Linked DNA regions of Homo sapiens. The protein of the gene in region 2 interacts with the protein of the main gene of each other region in a biochemical or structural test. Each region holds a gene or a part of one and is shown on either strand. Other genes may lie near its edges.

Region 1 (7,000 bases), on a different chromosome or scaffold from region 2:
CACTCCACGTCGTCGATGCCCTCGCCGGCCCCCTCGCCGTAGCCGTGCCCGAACGGCCCGTTCATGGTGCCGTCAAAGGCGCCGCCCTTGACCACCTGGGAAGGCATCAGGGACTCCTCCTGCCGCACCATCACCATCAGCCGCGCGATGTCGTTGGCCAGCATGTCATCCACCGTGTCCAGCAGCTTGGGCTTCAGCGCCTGGAACTTGCTGAAGTCCTGGGTCTGCAGGAGTTCCTGTGGGCGGGGGAGGAAGGACAAGGGCTGGGAAGGGAGGCCCCTCCCAGACTCCAGGCCAAGTGGTTCCAGTCAGGGCTTCACAAGCATAAAGTGCTGCTCCCCCACACTAGCAGGGGCGACTCGGCAAAACCATCTGGCCCTTGGCTCTCTAACCTGTACACAGGAGGCACCTCCAGCTCTTTCCTTGCAGGGCTGCGGCAAGGATTCATGGACAGGGCACCAGAGCGCCTGGCATGGCCCTGCCCTCCCCCCACCACGCAGGGTGAGTCACCACATTCCCCTCTGCAGTGTCACCGCCTGGGTCAACTCTGAGTTGGGTGGGGTGCTGGTGATTAACCCAGCTGCTTCCGTTCAGGGAGGCCCTTCCCCATGGAGATGGGATTCCCTCCAAATCCAGTGCCCTGGGCCTTCCTTCTGCCCTGATGGCCACCAGCCTGCATGGGGCCTCGGGACAGCCGTACCTGCATCTTGCGGAGGCTCGGGAAGTCCCCAGGGGAGATCTGGTGCTCGCGCTCAATCTTCTGGTAGATCTCTCCGAGGTTGTTCACCAGCTCTTTCTTTTTGCTCTCTTTACCAAAGACATTGGGCATCTCTTTCTTGAGGGAGCTGATGATGTAGGCGTGAACCTGTGAGGACGGGGTGAGCATCAGGCGCTCTCTTGGCCCAGGCTGCCCCCGAGAGCAGAGCCTCCAAGGACACTCCAAGGATACTCCAAGGTGCTCGCTCAGGAACAGGGAAGCAGGAGGGATGGGTCAAGCTCAAGGCCGCTACCACCACCGGCTCCCACAGTCCTAGGAGCAGACACAATCTGGCAAGAGCCACAGCTGTCCACTGCCACAGGACAGAGGACAGGACAGGAAAACGCACTTGAAACAGAAGACAACAGCCTTGGCCTTGCACGGATCATTGTGATGATTCAGGAAGAGTAAAACCCAGTCTGTCAACCCAAAGAAGGCAATTTGTCGTGTACCACTGGGCACATCACACACCCTCTGTTCAACCCTCACCACGCATCACACACCCTCCGCTCAACCCTCACCACGCATCACACACCCTCCGCTCAACCCTCACCACGCATCACACACCCTCCGCTCAACCCTCACCACGCATCACACACCCTCCGCTCAACCCTCACCACGCATCACACACCCTCCGCTCAACCCTCACCACACACCCTCCGTTCAACCCTCACCACAGCCCTGCGGGGTGGGATTCTCCCAACCCGGCCCTAAGCAAGGCTGGGAAAGGCTGCCTGGGGTGCTTGGCTCCCACATGGAGGAGCTGGGATTGGAACCCCGGGCTGCTGAAGGTGCCCCACAGCCCATGTTCTTCTGTTTCTCTGCAAGCCCCCTTCCCCCGAGCTGCCCCCTCCCACGCAGCAGAGCAGGGAGCAGGCTTCCTGCAGGGCCCACCAGCCTGCACGTCCAAATCCCTGCTGAGTGCCGATGGAGCCCACAGAACTCCAATGGGCCCGTGCCACGCTCCACTCCATCATCACAGCTCGGATGACGAAGGATTTGAAAAATCCCAAAAAGGCTTCTCCTGGTGGTTGCCAGCTTTATCCAAGCATCAATACCTTGCTTAGGCATGTGCCTGTTCAGGGCGGCACCCCCTTCATTTCCCTGCAGCAAGCTGGGAACCTGGCAGCCCTCGAGAGTAGCCCAGCCCTCAGATCCCTCGGCCTTGCCAAGTCGTGTCCAGCCACAGAGGGCTGCGGCCAGCCAGCCTTGCTGCCCTTCTCCCCGGCTCCAGCCCATCCACCACCCCGCTCAGCCTGAGCCTGTGCCCTGGGTGGGGGCCTGGCTGAGAACTGCCTGAGGGAGGCAGCCCCGTGCCATGTGGGTCTGGATCTAGAGTCTCCCCAGGGACACTGTGGCAGGCAGATCCCAGGCCGGTGGGAGTCATCACAGAGAGCACCACTCACTCCAGGAAAAGGAAGTGGCAGGTGTGAGGCAACACTGGAGGCCACAGGGTTTTCCAGGCGCGGTGACTCAGTGTGCCTGGGGCCTGGCAGTCACACATGGTCTCACAGACGACCAGGCAGGGGCTCATGCCTGCCCCTTGTCCTGTCTGTCCTCAAAGGTGGCTGAGCAAGGGAGCTCTCTCTGCCCTGCAAGGAGAGAAACTCAGCTAGGGCCACACCCACACCCCTCAGCTCAGGACGTCCTTTGTCCTTTGAGGCCAGGGTCAGTCACCTGGGTTTTTGTATGGGTTCCTCTCTCAAAGCTGGCTCCACTCACAGGGAGGCTCCAGAAGGGAGAGATCTAGAAAAACATCCAGCCAGCCGGGCGCGGTGGCTCACGCCTGTAATCCCAGCATTTTGGGAGGCCGAGGCAGGCGGATCACCTAAAGTCAGGAGTTCGAGACCAGCCTGATCAACATGGTGAAACCCCGTCTCTACTAAAATATAAAAATTAGCTGGGTGTGGTGACGGGCGCCTGCAATCCCAGCTACTCAGGAGGCTGAGGCAGGAGAATGGCTTGAGCCTGGGAAGCGGAGGTTGCAGTGAGCCGAGATTGCGCCACTGCACTCCAGCCTAGGTAACAGAGTGAAACTCCATCTCCAAAAAAATCAAAAAATAAAATAATAAAATTAAAAATAAGAAAAACACGCAGCCCTCTGTCCTCCAGAGCCGGCATCTGACCCACGCCCGTGCACACAGCTCACGGAGGTTCAGGCCAGAATGAGAATTCCTCATCTACAGGGTGAGGTGGGGCCCAGGGTACTTGGGGCACAATGGGAGGACAGTGGTGGCAAAGGATGAAGGGTCAGTTCTCACTGCTCAGACCAGGTAGCACCCACATGCCCTCTGACTGGCCTCCAGACAGAGTGGGTACGAGGGCCACTGTGCTCAACGCCTGCAGTCTCCATGCCTCTGAGCAGGCAGGGACATGGGCTCCCCAGGAAGTGCCCATCCTCAGTCCTCAGTTATATTCTGGAGATCAGGGGACTGTGACCCTGGCCACAGGCACATCTGTCACTGAAGCCTTCATGCCCACATGATGTCTACCCTGGTACCCCCTGCATGCCATGAGGTGGGGGCAAGCACCCTGCTCTGTTGAAGAACTGGGGACGTATCACCAAAGGGCCTGGCTTGGCAGGCAGGACAGTTCCCCAGCCACGCTCCGGCCTGGCTGGCCTGGAGATAGGAGCTACGGCAAGGGCCTTTTTTTTTTTTTTTTTTTTTAAATTAAATAGAGACAGGGTCTCACTAGGTTGCTCAGGCTGGTCTCTAACTCCTGGCCTTAAGGGATCCTCCTGCTTTGGCCTCCCAAAGTGCTGGGATTACAGGCGTGAGCCACCATGCCTGGCCAGAGCCTATTTCTTTTCTTTTTTTTTGAGACAGAGTCTTGCTCTGCCACCTGGGATGGAGTGCAGTGGTGTGATCTCAGCTCACTGCAACCTCTCCCTCCTGGGTTCAAGTGATTCTCCTGTCTCAGCCTCCCAAGTAGCTGGGATTACAGGCACGCACCACCACGCCCGGCTAATTTTTGTATTTTTTTTAGTAGAGATGGGGTTTTGCCATGTTGGCCAGGCTGGTCTCGAACTCCTGACCTCAGGTGATGCGCCCACCCACCTTGGCCTCCCAAAGTGCTGGAATTACAGGATGAGCCACCATGCCTGGCTGGAGCCTATTTCTGAAACAACCGAGCCCTGTGCTAAGAGCCTGAAAGAATAGCTAGGTGCCCTGCTGATACAAATGTGGGCTTGGTCACTTCTCAGCTGTTCAGACAATCTGTGTCAAACACTCCTGTCCACGGGGTCAACCCCAACCACAGCCGGGACTGTCACTCATGGTGACTCGTCTAGGCTGGCTCACGATAGGGTGCTATCCAAAGTCAGACACGCCAAGGGCATGTGTTCTGTCATTCTGTGTTGGAAGGGCCCGCTGGTGGCATTAACCTTTGTTTCCTGGCCCCACCCACACCGGCTCTCACTCAAGTACTTGGTCAGCCACTGAGATTCCAAACCCTTTGGCCATTCAGAGGCTGCTGATAGGTGCCACCAGGCCTGGGCTGCCAGGAGACCTAAGGATGGTCTGCAAGGCCTGCTGAACTGACACTGCCTCAGCGTGACCTTGGCTTCCATGCACAGTGCTCCCCGGGCTGCAGGCTGGCACCCTGTCTCCTCACGAGCTGCTTCCTGTCACAGCTTAAGCTTCAGCTCCTGCCAGGCCCCCCCAGCCCTTCTACTCCACTGGGACAGCCCCTAGCGCCAGCTCCCGCAGCAGCCTGTGCTCGCTCCGAGACGACACAAATAACTGATGTTTATTTTTTGTTTGCGTGCTCTGCTTTCCCCATGAAGGCTGAGGAGTGGACAGGGGCTGTGTGTCACTCCCCGCCAGTACCCGGCATCCAGCACTGTGCTGAGTGCACTTCAGGCTCAGTAAACCCCAGAGGGGTAATCCCAGCACTCTGGGAGGCTGAGGTGGGCAGATCACCTGAGATCAGGAGTTTGAGACCAGCCTGGCCAACATGGTGAAACCCTGTCTCTAATAAAAATACAAAAATCAGCTGGGCATAGTGGTGCGTGCCTGTGATCCCAGCTACTCGGGAGGCTGAGGTAGGAGAATCATTTGAACCTGGGAGGTGGAGGTTGCTATGAGCCGAGATCATGCCACTGCACTCCAGCTTGGGCAACAGAGCGAGTCTCCGCTTCAAAAACAAAAACAAAAACAAAAAACCCTAGAGGGAAGCCAACAAGCCTTAGAGCTCTATCCCCCAACACTCCATTTCTGAGGCTGCCTCCTTTGCTTCAGCGGTAACTTCCTGTGTGCTGTTTCTGTGTTGTAAGCACAGTCAAACCCTTCCTGAAAGTAGATGGGGTATAAACCACAAACAGAACAGGTTTAGAGGGAGGCCGGGTAGAGAATCTTAGTTAAGAGCAGGCTGCACGCGGGTGCTGACCAAAGACTGGTTTCTATAGAGGGAAACAGCGCAGTGCAGGTCTGCCTGTGAAGTGAGCTGGGAAGGGTCTCGGGCAATCCTGGGGCCCTGAGTGCCAGTCTCAGAGCCCCATGGCCCTGCCTGGCAATAGGCTGCTCCCCTCACCCCAGGGTCTACCTTGGCCAGCCGTGCCCGCTTGATCAGGTCATTGAGCTTCCTGAGGGCGGCGTTTCGGGGCAGTGACTGGATGTCCTTGAAGAGGTCCTGCTCCTCGGCCTCAAAGAGCTTGCGGTTGTCGGGGATGAGGAGCGGGTGGGACCAGAAGGAGCCGATGTAGACCCTGACCACCTCGGGGGTGTTGATGATCTTGCCCAGGGACCACATGAGGGCCCCGTACACCCGCATCAGCTGCTGCGTCTCGATCTGGTCTGCCTTGTTCAGCACCACGCGGATCTTGTCCTCATGGTTCTTCAGAGCCTTGATCACTTCCGAGAACTCATCGGAGATGTCCAGCTTGTGGGCGTCGAAGAGCAGGATGATGCGGTCCACACGCTCCGCGAACCACTCCAGGACGGCTGCAAAGTCATAGCCTGGGGGGAAGAGAAGGGAGAGCTCAGGGGCGCCAAGGGACCTGCTGCTCTGATGGCTCTCATCTCCAACCTGGCCTGGTATTTCTCAGCCTGAGATAGTTTTTAAAATTCCTATAGGCCGGGCGTGGTGGCTCACGCCTGTAATCCCAACACTTTGGGAGGCCAAGGTGGGAGGATCACGAGGTCATGAGTTTGAGGCCAGCCTGGCCAACATAGTGAAACCCTGTCTCCACTAAAAATACACAAATTAGCCGGGCAGGGTGGCGCGAGCACTCAGGAGGCTGAAGCAGGAGAATCGCTTGAACCCAGCAGGTGGAGGTTGTGGTGAGCCAAGCCCATGCCACCGCACTCTAGCCTGGGTAAGAAGAGCAAAACTGTCGCGAAAAAAAAAAAAAAAAGAAAAGGCCAGGCACAGTGGCTCACACCTGTAATCCCGACACTTTGGGAGGCTGAGGTGGGTGGATCACAAGGTCAGGAGTTCAAGACCAGCCTGGCCAACATAGTGAAGCCCTGTCTCTACTGAAAATACAAAAATTAGCCCGGCATGGTGGTGGGCACCTGTAATCCCAGTTACTCGAGAGGCTGAGGCAGGAGAATTGCTTGAACCTGGGCGGCAGAGGTTGCAGTGAGCTGAGATTGCGCCACTGCACTCCAGCCTGGGCAACAGTGTGAGACTCCATCTCAAAAAAAAAAAAAAAAAATAGCCGGGTGTGGTGGCACATGCCTGTAGTCCTAGCTACTCAGGAGGCTGATGCAGGAGAACTGCTTGAAACCAGGAGGCAGAGGTTGCAGTGAGCCGAGATTGTGCCACTGCAGTCCAGCCTGCGTGACACAGCGAGACTCCGTCTCAAAAAAAAAAAAAAAATTCCTAGGTGTTCATCTAGACAGCACAGCACCCTGAGGGCAGGATTATCTCCCCTATTCCTGCCCCCACCATAACACTCCCCAACCCATGTAGCACTTGGCATAAACAGGTGCTAATGCAAAGGTCGTCCCACAGTGCAAGCTCTAAGGTGGGTCAGAGGAGGGCGAGAGTGAGGAGGAGACCCAGCACTGTGCTCAGCACAGCACAGAGGGTAGAACATAGACTCCAGTGTTGCCACCTGCCTGCTGTATGCCCTGGGACGGTAGTGACAAGAGGCGCCTGCAAAAGTAACTGCAGCTGCTACTTTTTCAGTGCTGATGTGCCAGGCTCCCCATTTTGCAGGAATCTCACTTATTTTCTGCAACAAGGGTTGGCAAACTACAGCTCAGGGATCAAACCTGGCCCACCACCTGTTTGTAT
Region 2 (7,988 bases):
ATCACTTTACATTAAGAAGATTTCATTTCATTCAATAGGAAACTTCAGAATACACAGTTGATCCTATCTAAAGACCACCCTGCAGGTCCAGGCAGAGGCCCCGTCACAGGCCTCCCTGGGCGCTCTGGGCTTGGGCTCAGAGGCCCATATGGGGTCCTGGCAGGTGGCCTCAGGCAAAACCACTCACCCCTTTAGCTCTGACTCTCTTTCTCCTCTAAACAATGAAAAGGGAAACAAATCAACAAGGCTGTCCTGAAAACAAAATGAGGGCTATGGAAAGCTTCTTGGTAAAATGCAAATGCCTAGACAACCAAGCTCTTTTTATTTATACTTATTTTAATTACAAAGTTATTACTTAAACATTAATCTAAAAGTAAAAGGGCAATGGTACTGTGTGGAAAACAAGGAGAAACTTCCTATAATTCTAAAGCCTTAACTATCACTGCTGCGTGTTATCTTAATACAATTTCACACAGGTGAGCAGTGCTCACACCTTTATCATTTGCTTTCTAAGTCCTATTTCCCATCACCTAGGGATAAGCTATCATTACCAGTACTCCCTTCCAATCCTGAGTCACTACGTGTAGTCAAGCAACATCCCTTCACCCCAGGGTCAGGCTTTCTAGAATCCATCACATTAAACTCAGGCAGAGAATTACCAACCCAGAAGAGAGCAAGGCCTCTCTGCATGGCAAGGCTGCCCTCAAAACCCAGGGAGGATATGACCATCATCAGGCCCTTACCCCAACAAAAGGGCCAGGTGCCAACAGCAGCTTACAAAAGGTGGTGGGGAGAAAGACAGGCCCTGTAAGTGCCAGGATATGAGGGGAGTCCATGCAGGGCCAGGGCAGGAGGCCTCACCCACACCAATGACCTGCGACTACACCCGTGACCCCGAGTCACCAAGGAAAGGTCCAAAAAGTTCTGGAAGGATTTTTAAATAGAACTGGATAAAATCACTTTGGGCACTTTAAAGGTATAGTTTGCTGGCAAATTCACTTACGTAGACTGATAGGAGAGTGACTGAATGAGCACTGTGACCAGGCACACATGCTGGGCTCCTGGGGTCCATCACCTCATGCTGCCCCGCCAAAATCCTATGAGGAAGGGCTCTCAGTATCCTGGTGCAAAGGACTGCATGTATGGATCCCCTCAAAATTCATATGTTGAAATTCTACCCCTCAGTTTGATGGCATTAGGAAGTAGGGCCTTTGGAAGCTAATTAGGCAGGGCCCTCATGAATGGGACTAGTGTCCTTACAATTTTTTTTTTTTAGTTTTTGTTGAGATAGGGTCTCACTATGTTACCCAGGCTGGCCATGAACTCCTGGCATCAAGTGATCCTCCTGCCTCAGCCTCCAAAAGTGTTGAGATTACAGGCATAAGCCACTGCACTCAGCCACTCATGCCTTTATAAAAAGTACCTGAGAGCTCTCTCGCCTTCTTTCTGTCATGTGAAGCTATAAGAAGTCAGCAATCCGCAACATGAAAAAGGACCCTCCTCAGAACCCAACCATGCTGGTACCCTGATCTCAGACTTGCAGCCTACAGAACTGTAAGAAGGAAATTTCTGTTGTTTACAAGCCACCGCATCTTTGTTATAGCAGCCCCAACTGACTAAGACACTCAAGTTTTGGAGACATTGAAACATTTGGCCAAAAGCCGCACAGTCACCTAGTGATGGAGCTCGAACCCACACCCAAGGGCTGTATGACTCCAAAACCATGTTCCTAACCTCCAAAACCTTATTGCAAAATTACCTTTCTTCTGTAGGAACTAACAGTGAAAGTGACATATTAACCTCAAGGATCTGTAAGCATAAACCATATGGAAAGAGAAACAGCCAGGCACGGTGGCTCATGCCTGAAATCCCAGCACTTTGGGAGGCAGAGGCAGGCGGGCCGTTTGAGGTCAGGAGTTTGAGACCAGCCTGGCCAACATGGTAAAACCCCATCTCTACCAAAAATACAAAAATTAGCCCGGCATGATGGCGCATGCCTATAATCCCAGCTACTTGGGAGGCTGAGGCAGGAGACTCACTGGAACCTGGGAGGTGGAGGGTGCAGTGAGCCGAAATCGCACCATTGTACTCCAGCCTGGGCGACAAGAGCAAAATTCCGTCTCAAAAAAGAAAAAAGAAAGAGAAGCAGAACCCACACAGCTACTGCATTCTCAACCAAACACGTAAATGCAGGTTAAGAGAATGAGTCAAGGCTGAGGCCATTCCCACTCGAAAAGCCCTTCTCATTAGAGTGGAGCCACTGCTTCCTAGGAACACAGATGGCAATCCTTGAGACTCCCAGAGACAGAGGTGACCTTTGTGAAATTGAGTCACCTGAATCACCCCTCCCCCATCTGCATCCCTGACTTCTCAACTGACATCTTGCTTCTCTGAAGATCTTCATCCCGGTATTTTAAATACCCAGAAACTGCTCCCCAGTGAACTGTCCTCCAGGAGAATATAAGGCAGGTCATAACCTGGAGCCTTCCCTGCCCCTAGCAGCCCCTCTCACACACACCTCTTGTTCTTTTTTTTTTTTTTTTTGAGACAGTCTCGCTCTGTCACCCAGGCTGGAATGAAGTAGCACTATCCTGGCTCACTGCAATCTCTGCCCCCAGGTTCAAGCGATTCTCCTGCCTCAGCCTCCCGAGTACCTGGGTTCACAGTCACAAACCACCACGCCCAGCTAATTTTTGTACTTTTAGTAGAGACAGGGTTTTGCTATGTTGGCCAGGCTGGTCTCAAACTCCTGGCCTCAAGTGATCCGCCCACCTCAGCTTCCCAAAGTGTTGGGATTACAGGCGTGACCCCTCTCTCCCAGCCACTCCTTGTTCTTCAGAGCTCTGTAGCTCTGCCCAGAATGGTCCTTCACGTCAGCCCCACCTGGAGAGCACCTGTGGCTCTGGCACAATCCCTCCCAAGTCACTTCCCTGAAGGTCAGCTCTCTGTAGTGTCCTGAGGACAGTCAGACCCGCCCTCCTCTGTCGTGCAGTACTTTGTACACACTACTATCTGGTACCGCCACAATGAAAAGAGAAGTTTCCAGGCCTGCTGCCTATACTGAGCTGCCTTTACAGAGCAGCCATCATCTTTATCTCAGGATTCCAGAGCTGCAGGCAGAGCCAGGGGCACCAGGCATGCAGTGGCCAGGACCACTACCTCTGACTCACCCTGCCTGTTGCCTTCCACCCACAGATGCTCCCTCCACATGAGCCACTGAGATATCCTCCAAACACTCTCAGTCCAGGGAGTGAAATGAAAATAAAAAGCAGGTACTTCCACGGGCAGCTTAATGGAGTGCCCCAGCTGGCTGCAACTCTATCAATAGTCACATCACACATGACATAACAGGAAGACAGGTGGATTCTCCACACACACTCCACATTGAGTGATGCCTGCTGTGTGCAGTACTATCAGCTTCCATGTCTGAGTATTCAAAACAGCTTTCAGAAATACATCAGAAGTATTCTTTTAAAAAATAAAAATAAAAAACATCTTTATTATGATTATTTTCATCAGAAATAAGCCACCTAACATCTGTGAGGCTCTAAAATTCAGTGGTCTTCTTTTTTTTTTGAGACAGAGTCTCACTCTGTCGCCCAGGCTGGAGTGCAGTGGCACAATCTCGGCTCACTGCAACCTCCGCCTCCTGGGTTCAAGCCATTCGCCTGCCTCAGCCTCCCCAGTAGCTGGGATTACAGGCACGCACCACCATGACCAGCTAGTTTTTATATTTTTAGTAGAGATGGGGTTTCACCATATTGGCCAGGCTGGTCTCAAACTCCTGACCTTGTGATCTGCCCACCTCAGCTTCCCAAAGTGCTGGAATTACAGGCGTTAGCCACCACGCCCGGCCTAAGTTCAGTGTTCTTTTACATATATGAGCTCTTTATATAGCTCAGAATGTGTACTCTTTCAATAAACCAAAAAAATTAGTCCATAAAATGTTAGGAATCTAGCCAGAAGGCCACAAGCAGCCACTGTTGGACAGTCCTGGCCACTGGCACAATCCACACCCAACTTTCAAACCCACCCAGCGGCTCTGGGCCCAGGGAGGGGCCTCCTAGACTGCAGAAAGCATCTCATCTGTGAGGACATACTTGGATAGGACAAGTGAGACATTTGGAATTTTTACTTAACATTTATTTCACAACTTTCTCAAGTGCTAAGCAACTGAGAAGTAGTCATTTTAATGTACTCTTTCATCAATAAGCATTAAATAAGTCTGCTCAAAACACTCAAGCCCTACAAACTGTCCCTATGAAAAATGTGGCAAGAAAAAATAACAAAAACAAATAAGTAGCCTTTTCACATACAGAAAAGGTGTTTAGTGATCCAAATTCAGAGAGAAAAACAGTCCTTTCCGGCAGATGAACAAATAGTTTCCTCTACGAGTGACACATTCTGGGATATTTGAACTGCCAAACATAACTCATAATGACAACCACCAAGGAAGCAAAACCTAATGGAAAAGCCCCAGGATGGCAACCAGGAGCCCCAGTTCTGGTCCCAGGACGGCCTCTGGCTGTTTGCTCCATCAACGTGCTGACCAAGCCTGGCCCACTTTCTTCATCACAGGAAGGAATATCTATTGCCACCTGTACCACTCAGAAATGTTTTGAGGACAAAAGAATGAGAGGTGAAAGTGCTTTGGAATGTGCATCTTCTATAAATACAAGTCATCATTATTATTAGCTCAAAGATGACCAGGAAAATAGGATTACAGAATATCACAGGTGAGAGGGAGCTTAGAGATGGAATAATCCAGTTCTTAATCTGGGTCCACGCCTATGAAGCTGTCCCCCTTCGTGGGAAGGGGTCACAGTTGCTATCAGATTTGCAAAAGGTGAAGGTCCTCTAAGTCCTTCATTTTACAAATATGAAAACTGAGACCTGGAGTTCTGTGCTGATTGTCCCAGACCTCAGGGTTGGTCAGGGAAAGGCTGGACAAGAGCCCAAGGCTCCTAGTCTCCATCCACGCTCCTCCCCCTCTGTCATCTCATATTCTTGGGAGGAAAAATAATCATATAAATTTTATCTGGCCACAGAATATGTACTATAAACCACCACACATGCACTTTCCAAAGGTACAGCAAAATCTCTAGCCTTATTTATCATTTTTAAGGCTTCTTGCGAGGTCTTTGATAGTTGAGACATCATTTTATTTTTTCTATTTTTTTTTTTTTTTTTTTTTGAGACAGAGTCTTGCTCTGTCACCCAAGGCTGGAGTGCAGTGGCACAATCTCGGCTCACTGCAGCCTCTGCCTCCCGGGTTCTAGTGATTCTCCTGCCTCAGCCTCCCGAGTAGCTGAGATTATAGGCGCACGCCACCATACCCGACTAATTTTTGTATTTTCAGCAGAGATGGGGTTTCACCATGTTGGCCAGGCTGGTCTCGAACTCCTGACCTGAAGTGATCTGCTCCTTTACTTCCCATAGTGCTGGGATTACAGGTGTGAGCCACAGCGCCCAGCCCCATTTTATTATTTCTATATTCTCATCTCCGTCTAGTTCAGTGCCTAAAATCAAGAAACACGCAAATGATTTTTTTAGGATTGAAAATAGGCCAGGTGTGGTAGCTCACACCTGTAATCCTAGCACTTTGGGAACCCGAGATGGGAGGATCACTTGAGGCCAGGGGTTTGAGACCAGCCTGGCAAACATGGCGGAATCCCATCTCTGTTTAAAAATACATATATATATATATTTTTTTTTAATTGAAAATAAAAAAGACCGGCCAGGCACGGTGGCTCACGCCTGTAATCCCAGCACTTTGGGAGGCAGAGGCGGGCAGATCACGAAGGTCAGGAGATCAAGACCATCCTGGCTAACATAGTGAAACCCCGTCTCTACTAAAAATACAAAACATTAGCCAAGTGTGGCGGCGGGCGCCTGTAGTCCCAGCTACTTGGGAGGCTGAGGCAGGAGAATGGCATGAACTCGGGAGGCGCAGCCTGCAGTGAGCCAAGATCACACCACAGGGCACTTCCAGCCTGGGCAACAAAGCGAGACTCCGTCTCAACAACAACAACAACAAAAAAAGACAAGAAAGGAAAAGAAAAAAGACCTTATTCTAGGAAACAAGAAAGACTCTATGGTGCTTTAAGTTTTATTAAGCAAACAGATGAACATGCATTTATGGGAATAAGCACAATTCAATAGGTAACTTAAGGAAAGGTGGTTTTTATTTGTTTTATGTGTGCTTTTCATCAAAATGTCAAAACTTGTGCTCTTTGGTGGCCACTGTCCCTCAAGTAGTTACCTTTGGAACTGCAGAGATACCAAAAAATGATGTATTGTGCAGAATAATTTGAGAATTCTTTGAAGCCTGTCTCCAGTCCACAGACAGAGCATACTCATCTGAACACTAAAATTCTGCAGAAATTCCTACAAAACTATCCCAAGAACCACCACTGGGACGCATCTGGAGTCTGTCTGGGGCAGGGACGAATGATACTTTCTGGTATGTGAGGGATCAGTGCCCTGGCCATAAGGAAAGACTCTACCTGTGGAATGCAAACTGCCTTCGTAACTAAGGCATTGCTGCACTGCCCTCAGGTATGCAGCTACCATTCCAAACAACCTAACTGGAAAAAAACTAAGCCAGCACTATTGCTCACATGAATGTGGTCATTAATCGCATAATCTACAGGGCGGCCTCCACAAAGCTGCCATTACAATCTGATGGCAGATAAAGCAGGCCCGAGTCAGCTGGGAGGTTCACATGAAGGTGGCCAGAGAGCATCTGGTAAATGCCACTGCGAACTCTAAACACAAGGTGCCATCACTATTATTAAAGAAACTTTTCGATCTGTTTGATATTCCACAACATCCGGAATCATCCACTGATAACCCCTTCAGAATCAGTAAGCCTGAGCATGACGCCCTTAACACAGCACAGACTTTCAAGGTATAGAGAAGAAACAAAAGGCAAGGACATCTGCGAGGCCGAGGCGGGCAGATCACTGGAGGTCAGGAGTTCCAGATCAGCCTGGCCAACACTGTGAAACCCCATCTCTATTAAAAATACAAAAACTAACCAGGCAAGGTGGCAGGCGCCTGTAATCCCAGCACTTTGGGAAGCTGAGGTGGGCAGATCACCTGAGGTCAGGAGTTCCAGATCAGCCTGGCCAACATGGTAAAACCCCATCTCTATTAAAAATACAAAAACTAGCCAGGCAAGGTGGCAGGTGCCTGTAATCCCAGCACTTTGGGAGGCCAAGGCAGGTGGATCACAAGGTCAGGAAATCGAGACCATACTGGCCAACACGGTGAAATCCCGTCTCTACTATAAATACAAAAATTAGCCAGGCGTGGTGGTGGATGCCTGTAGTCCCAGTTACTCAGGAGGCTGAGGCAGGGGAATCACTTGAACCTGGGAGGCAGAGGTTACAGTGAGCTGAGATCGCACCACTGCCTCCAGCCCGGGCGACAGAGCGAGACTCTGTCTCAAAATAAATAAATACATACATACATACATACATACATACATACATACATACATACATACAAACATACAAAAACTAGCCAGGCAAGGTGGCAGGCGCCTGTAATCCCAACTACTGAGGAGGCTGAGGCAGAGGAATCATTTGAACCTGGGCAGAGACTCTCTCTCAAAAAAAAAAAAAAAAAAAAAGCAAGGACAAATGCCCCTCTGCTCCCACTCCAGAAATGCCTGGCCATCAGAGATGTGGATGGGTATCCAGGATTAGGGAAAAGTTCATGTTATCTCCCTGCAGAATGCTATGTTGGTGGAAATCCAGAATTTTTTTTAAATATATGCATACTTTTAGATTTATTTATTTTTAAACAGAGTCTCACTCTGTCACCCAGGCTAGAGTGCAGTGGTGTGATCTCAGTGCACTGCAACTTCCATCTCCCAGGTTCAAGCAATTATCATGCCACAGCCTCCCAAGTAGCTGAGGCTGAGATTACACGTGTGCACCACTACGCCAGACTAATTTTTTTTTTTTTTTGAAACAGGAGTT
Region 3 (5,810 bases), on a different chromosome or scaffold from region 2:
GCAACCATCCTCCCGCCTAGCAGGACAGCCCTCCCAGTATAATTGTCCCCTGATGAGCACCAGAGTCCCCGCACCTGCACTGTCAACCCCTGGCCAGCGTTACTCTCCCCTGCCCAAATGTACTGTCTCCATGGGGATCATTATCCCCCAGCCAGCACTACTGTCACCCCCACCAGCATCACTCTCGCCCTGCCAACATGACTCTCCCTGGCCAGCATTATTACCCCCACCAGCATCACTCTGCTCTCCTCCCTCCACCCCCACCTTCCCCACAGCCACACCAACCTCAGCCACCTCTCAGGCCACCACCACCACCATCACAACCACCCAGTCCAGCCCCCAACCACCAACACTCTAAATGCCTCCCGGTCAGGACTTCTGCCCTCACTCTCACCCCTGCCCCTGGCTCCCCCCAGGCATTTCCTAGCTCTCCCATCTCCCTCGCTGCAGTCTCATGCCTGTTACCATCCCTCCCACCCCTGCCATCATCCTGCCATCTCCACCGTCAATGAATAAACATTTATTGAGCACCGGCAAATCCCAGACACTACAGAACACACAGAAGGCATGGCCCCACGCCGAGGGCCCCAGCCCCTTGCAAAGCTGCCACGCTGCCAAAAATGGTGGCGCATGCAGCTCAGGCGCAGGCTGAGGCTGGGGCTTGGCCGGGCAGTGCACTTGGAACGGGGTCCTAAGGCCTCTGCCAGGTTCCAGCTGGGGCAGGGGTCACGTCGCTTCCTGAGAGCAGAGCAAATAAATAATGGAGAGGCAGGGGCTGGGGCCTGAGGTGGAGGGGCTCTGGCGTTGGCTTATGTGACTCCATAGGAGCAAGACAGGTGGCCGGGAGCCCCCACCCCAGGGTGGGGAGGCAGAGCCAGGGGACCACAGGGTCCTGGGGCCTCCCTGGCACCTCCACTGGTCCCTCGCCTCTGGGGCCAAAGCAGGGTGTGGGGGGACACCCCAGAAGGCACTGCTGAAATGCGGCTGGACTAGAAATGAGTGGGCAGAGAAGCTGGGGCTGGGCTGCAGTCCCTAGAGCGGGGCGTCATCAGTCCTCCACTTGCGGGGGTAACCCTGCTGGTGGCCATCGCAGCGGGGGTTCCCCATGCTGTCCAGAGGCACCACCACCTCGTCCGGGTTCGAGTTCTTGTTCAGTTCCACCACGCGGGGTACCACCGAGGACCAGCGATCTGCACCGAGAGCACATCAGAGGGAGGGGTGGGGGTTGGTGGAGAGAGAGCGTGCGTATATTGAGTGCCTACTGTGTACTGGGCACTCCACAGTGTTCTGAAGGGGGGATGTGACTATGCTCATTTTACAGAGGTGGAAACTGGGGCTCAAGAGAGGTCAAGGTGCCTCCCCAGGAGAGAATGGAGGAACCAGGATTCAAGCCTGGAGCCGAATGCCCTGAGTGCCTGTGTCCTCTCCAGCTGCGTCTCGCGTGCTCATGGCTTACTGGACAAACAGGAAGGTTTTCTCCACACAGGGATGGCTGAGGAGCTCGTCCTCCCTCCCCAGGCCAGCTTATGTCAACAGTAGGGAGGGCCAGGATGAAGCCACGTAGGTGAGGTGCCCCAGGCATTCACAAGCAGCAGAGGAAGCTCAGGGGCACACTCTCTCATTCTGTAGACACGGACACTGAGTCCCGGAAAGAAGCAGGACTGCTCAAAGCAAATTCGTGATGAGAATGGACTGGGGCTCCCCTCCGCACCCGCCCCTCCACTCACCCCTGCGGAGGCGGCCCACGGTATGCGAGAAGCCATAATACTGGTAGGTCTCATTCTTGCCCGGGTCCTCGTTGATGATGCCCAAGTTCTGGTTCCAGTGAGACCAGTTCACCTCATCCACCCTGGCAGGGCCCAAGCAGAGGGTCATGGGGAACCCCTCAGAGACGCTCTCCATGCCACCATCCCCAGCACACCCTCCTATTTTTTTATTATGGTAACATATACATAACAAGGCTGGGCGTGGTGGCTCATGCCTGCAATCCCAGCACTTTGGGAGGCCGAGGTGGGTGGGTCATTTGAGGTCAGGAGTTCGAGACCAGCCTGGCCAACATGGTGAAACCCCACCTCTACTAAAAATTAAAAAAAATTAAAAAAAAAATTAGCGGGGCATGGTGGCGGGTGCCTATAGTCCCAGTGACCCGAGAGGCTGAGGCAGGAAAATCACTTGAACCTGGGAGGCAGTTGCAGTGAGCCGAGATCACGCCACTGCACTCCAACCTGGGGGACAAAGCAAGACTCCATCTCAAAAAAAAAAAAAAAAAGACGTGTGTGTGTGTGTGTGTGTGTGTGTGTATACACACACAAAAAATTTGCCATCTTAATCATTTTTGAGTATACAATTCAGTGGCATTAAGCACATCCACATTGTGTGACCATCACAGCTATCTATTTCCAAAATTCTTCCATTCCCCCAAGCAGAAATTATTTTTTTTAACCTTCTTTTGAGACAGGGTCTCACTCCATTGCCCAGGCTAGGGTGCAGTGGCACGATCACAGCTCACTGCAACCTTGACCTCCCAGGCTCAAGTGATCCGCCCACTTCAGCCCCCCATGTAGCTGGGATTACAGGGATATGCCACCACACCTGGCTAATTTTTTAAAAACGTTTTGTAGAGATGGGGTTTCACTATGTTGGTCTTGAACTCCTGGGCTCAAGCAATCCTCTTGCCTCGCTTCCCAAAGTGTTGGTATTACAGTCACCACGCCTGGCCCAGATAATATTTCACTGTACACATAGCCCACATTTTGTTTATCCACTCATTTTTTTATATATTATCTTTTTTTTTTACATATTATCTTTAATTTTTTATCCTATCTATTCATTTTTGTTTGTTTGTTTTAAGGCAGAGTCTTGCTCTGTCCGCCAGACTGGAGTGCAGTAGTGCAATCTCGGCTCACTGCAACCTCCACCTACCAGGTTCAAGCGATTCTCCTGCCTCAGCCTCCCGAGTAGCTGGGATTACAGGTGCATGCCACCACTCCCGACTAATTTTTGTATTTTTAGTGGAGACAGGGTTTCACCATGTTGCCCAGGGTGGTCTCAAACTCCTGACCTCAGGTGATCCACCCACCTTGGCCTCCCAAAGTGCTGGGATTACAAGCACGAGCCACCACACCCAGCCAAGATTTGAGCTTTGGATTCAAACTGAACAGAGGCTGGGTGTGGTGGCTCACGCCTGTAATCCCAGCATTTTGGGAGGCTGAGGTGGGAAGATCGCTTGAGACCAGGAGTTTGAGACCAGCCTGGGCAACATAGCAAGAACCCCATCTCTACAAAAAAATTAAAAATTGGTCGGACATGGTGGCATGAGGAGGCTGAGGTGGGAGGATCGCTTGAGACCAGGAGTTGGAGGCTGCAGTCAGCTATGATCACACCACTGCACTCCAGCCTGAGCAACCCTGCCTCTAAAAACAAACAAAAAATGGAATTGAACTGATCGGATGGCCTAGGAGGTGGGTTCTATTATTGTTCCCATTTCACAGATGAAGAAACTGACTTTGTCTGACTCCAAACATTCTGCTTATGCTCCATGCTGACAACCACTTTACAATGAATGAATCAACTGGAAAGAAAAGATTCATGAAGGGGTTCCCCTAAGAAGCTGGCACTCCCTGTGCCTCTGGAACACGGAGTCATTCTGCAGATGGGCTGGGTGAGGTCTCCAGCCCTGGAAACTGCACATTCCTCAGCTTCCCATTTCACCGAGGGCACTAGAGCTCACCCCACTGTTTGGTAGATACAGGGTGATGCTCTAAAATGAACCCACCATCCAAGTCTCTGCTTCCCCCTGAGCAAGAACAGGGGAGCCTGTGGCGTCCCGATGCGCGTCGGGCACTGGCTGAGCACTTCTCACGTGCTGACCTGTCTAATCCGCACCGCCAGCCTAGGAGCCCGTGAGATCATTGTCTCATTCCACAGATGAAGAAACTGAGGCTGAGAGAGGTGGGCTGACTTGCCTGAGATCGCCTGGTGGAAATGAACTCTGCTCGGGCCTCTTGGGGCCTCAGTGGCTCCAGAAATTGCAATGGGTAGACGACGCTGGAGCAGCAGGGGCCCCGAGCCAGTGGGGACAGTTCCGCCCTGCCATCCTGGCCCCACTGCCCCAGCCTCACCTGAAGCACCACCTGCGGTCAGGAGTGCCGTCCGAGCTCTTGCCCACGGTGACCATCTCCCCAGAGCGGAAGGCCTTCCTCAGGAATACGGGGAAGGAGCGCTCAATGTCCAGGATGGTGGTGGCCCACTGCGGGGAGGGAGGGTCAGGAGGGACATCGGTGAGCCTCACAGCCTGCGCCTGCCGCTCTGGTGGCAGAAATGAGACAACGGGCCAGGGTGGGCCCAGAACTAGGCATTTAGACTCCTACTCCCCACTAGACACAGGGTTTATAAACTCAAATACCCACAGGTGGCAGGCAGGAAAACAAATGGGTGAAACAGGATCAGGTGCAGAAAGGCTGCCGCCCAAGCCCTATCACACTTACACAGCAGTTGCCTCTCAGTGAGGGAGGGGTAGAGACTGGGGAGAACAGGGAGCAAATGCCCACGTGTAAGGGGGCAGCTGCCACTCACCCCACCTGAGGGCTGCCAGGCAGGAATCCGGACCCTGCACTGCCTGGAGCTTCCAACTTTTCAAGAAAAGCCAGAAATCTGGGTTTTCATAGGGAATCTCTTAATTTTTAAATTTTGCAGTTTTTTGTTGTTGTTGTTGTTTTTAATATAATGGTCTGATGCTGGGTGCAGTGGCTCACACCTGCAATCTCAGCACTTTAGGAGGCCAAGGCAGGTGGATAGCTTGAACTCAGAAGTTCAAGACCAGCCTGGGCAACATGGTGAAACCCCATCTTTACAAAAAATACAAAAATTAGCCGGGTGAGGTGGTGCACACCTTAGCCCCAGCTACTCGGGAGGCTGAGGACAGAGAATCACTTGAGCCTGGGAGGCAGAGGTTGCAGTGAGCCAAGATCACACCATTGCACTCCAGCCCACAGGATGCCCAGTTTGCATCCTGTGAGTAATGCCCAGTGGGGAAACTGAGGCCCAATGAAGTAAGCAATATAGATAAAGGTTAAGAGCAGGCCAGAGCTGTTTCCCTCAGACCCAGTCCTGGGAGGACAACCTTGGGCCCTTTTTTCTCACTGCACCATTTTCCTGAAATGCACAGTCAAGGTAAACACGGGTGCTGTATTCCTGGGCCGTGGGGCAGCACTGTTTATTAGGACACCAGGTTTGTAGGCTGCACCTGGCCTGGGAGGGCTGTGATCCCAGGGCCTGTTCTTTCCAGGATTGCATAGAAAGCTTTTGGTAAGTAAAAACTTTCTGCAGCTCCCCGGGCCAAGGCGGCCCCTGTCCCCATTGGTTTCTCCTCTAGGAAGCATGCTCACAGTTGCTAGAAAAAGACCCCCATGAGAATGCTGACATCCCTGTGCTGGAGTGCTAGAGCACAAAAGCTGCCCCTGGGCTCAGCGTGGGACCCCTGCTGAAACGCTGATGCCCACGGAGCACTTTCTGAGCCGGCAGAAGTCACTCAGTCATGCTAGGTGGAGCCGACTGTGTCCTGTGAGCTGGACCACAAGGAGAATCTGAGCCCACTGCTGGCAGCCAGGCAAGAAGCCACCTCAAAATTCACTAGGCAGCTCTGGGAAGTCAGCAGCAGCCTCTGATGCCCATTTTACCGACAGAGAAGTGGAGGGAGAATGAGAAGACACTGCTTGCTCAGAGTGGAAGGCCGAGGAAGCCAGTCGGGTGGGTCTCCTCGGAAGGACGAGGGTGGCTGGTAGAGTGGGGCTGGGGGCCCTGGGGCCTCA

Evidence for each region.
Region 1: the proteins of PACSIN2 (region 2) and EHD1 form a complex in vitro, tested with the Homo sapiens proteins (one study listed by BioGRID).
Region 3: the proteins of PACSIN2 (region 2) and TRPV4 interact in a test that uses a peptide from one of them, tested with the Homo sapiens proteins (one study listed by BioGRID).

Annotation. Positions count from the first base shown.
Region 1 is NC_000011.10:64,854,622-64,861,621, forward strand, and holds part of EHD1 (EH domain-containing protein 1), read right to left. Parts: intron 5,716-7,000; coding exon 5,303-5,715; intron 866-5,302; coding exon 701-865; intron 237-700; coding exon 1-236. UniProt on the Homo sapiens protein: ATP- and membrane-binding protein that controls membrane reorganization/tubulation upon ATP hydrolysis. In vitro causes vesiculation of endocytic membranes. Acts in early endocytic membrane fusion and membrane trafficking of recycling endosomes.
Region 2 is NC_000022.11:43,004,693-43,012,680, forward strand, and holds part of PACSIN2 (protein kinase C and casein kinase substrate in neurons protein 2), read right to left. Parts: intron 1-7,988.
Region 3 is NC_000012.12:109,782,589-109,788,398, forward strand, and holds the end of TRPV4 (transient receptor potential cation channel subfamily V member 4), read right to left. Parts: intron 4,309-5,810; coding exon of another isoform or gene 4,288-4,308; exon of another isoform or gene 4,250-4,287; coding exon 4,122-4,249; intron 1,850-4,121; coding exon 1,728-1,849; intron 1,191-1,727; coding exon 1,033-1,190; 3' UTR 501-1,032; downstream 1-500. UniProt on the Homo sapiens protein: Non-selective calcium permeant cation channel involved in osmotic sensitivity and mechanosensitivity. Activation by exposure to hypotonicity within the physiological range exhibits an outward rectification.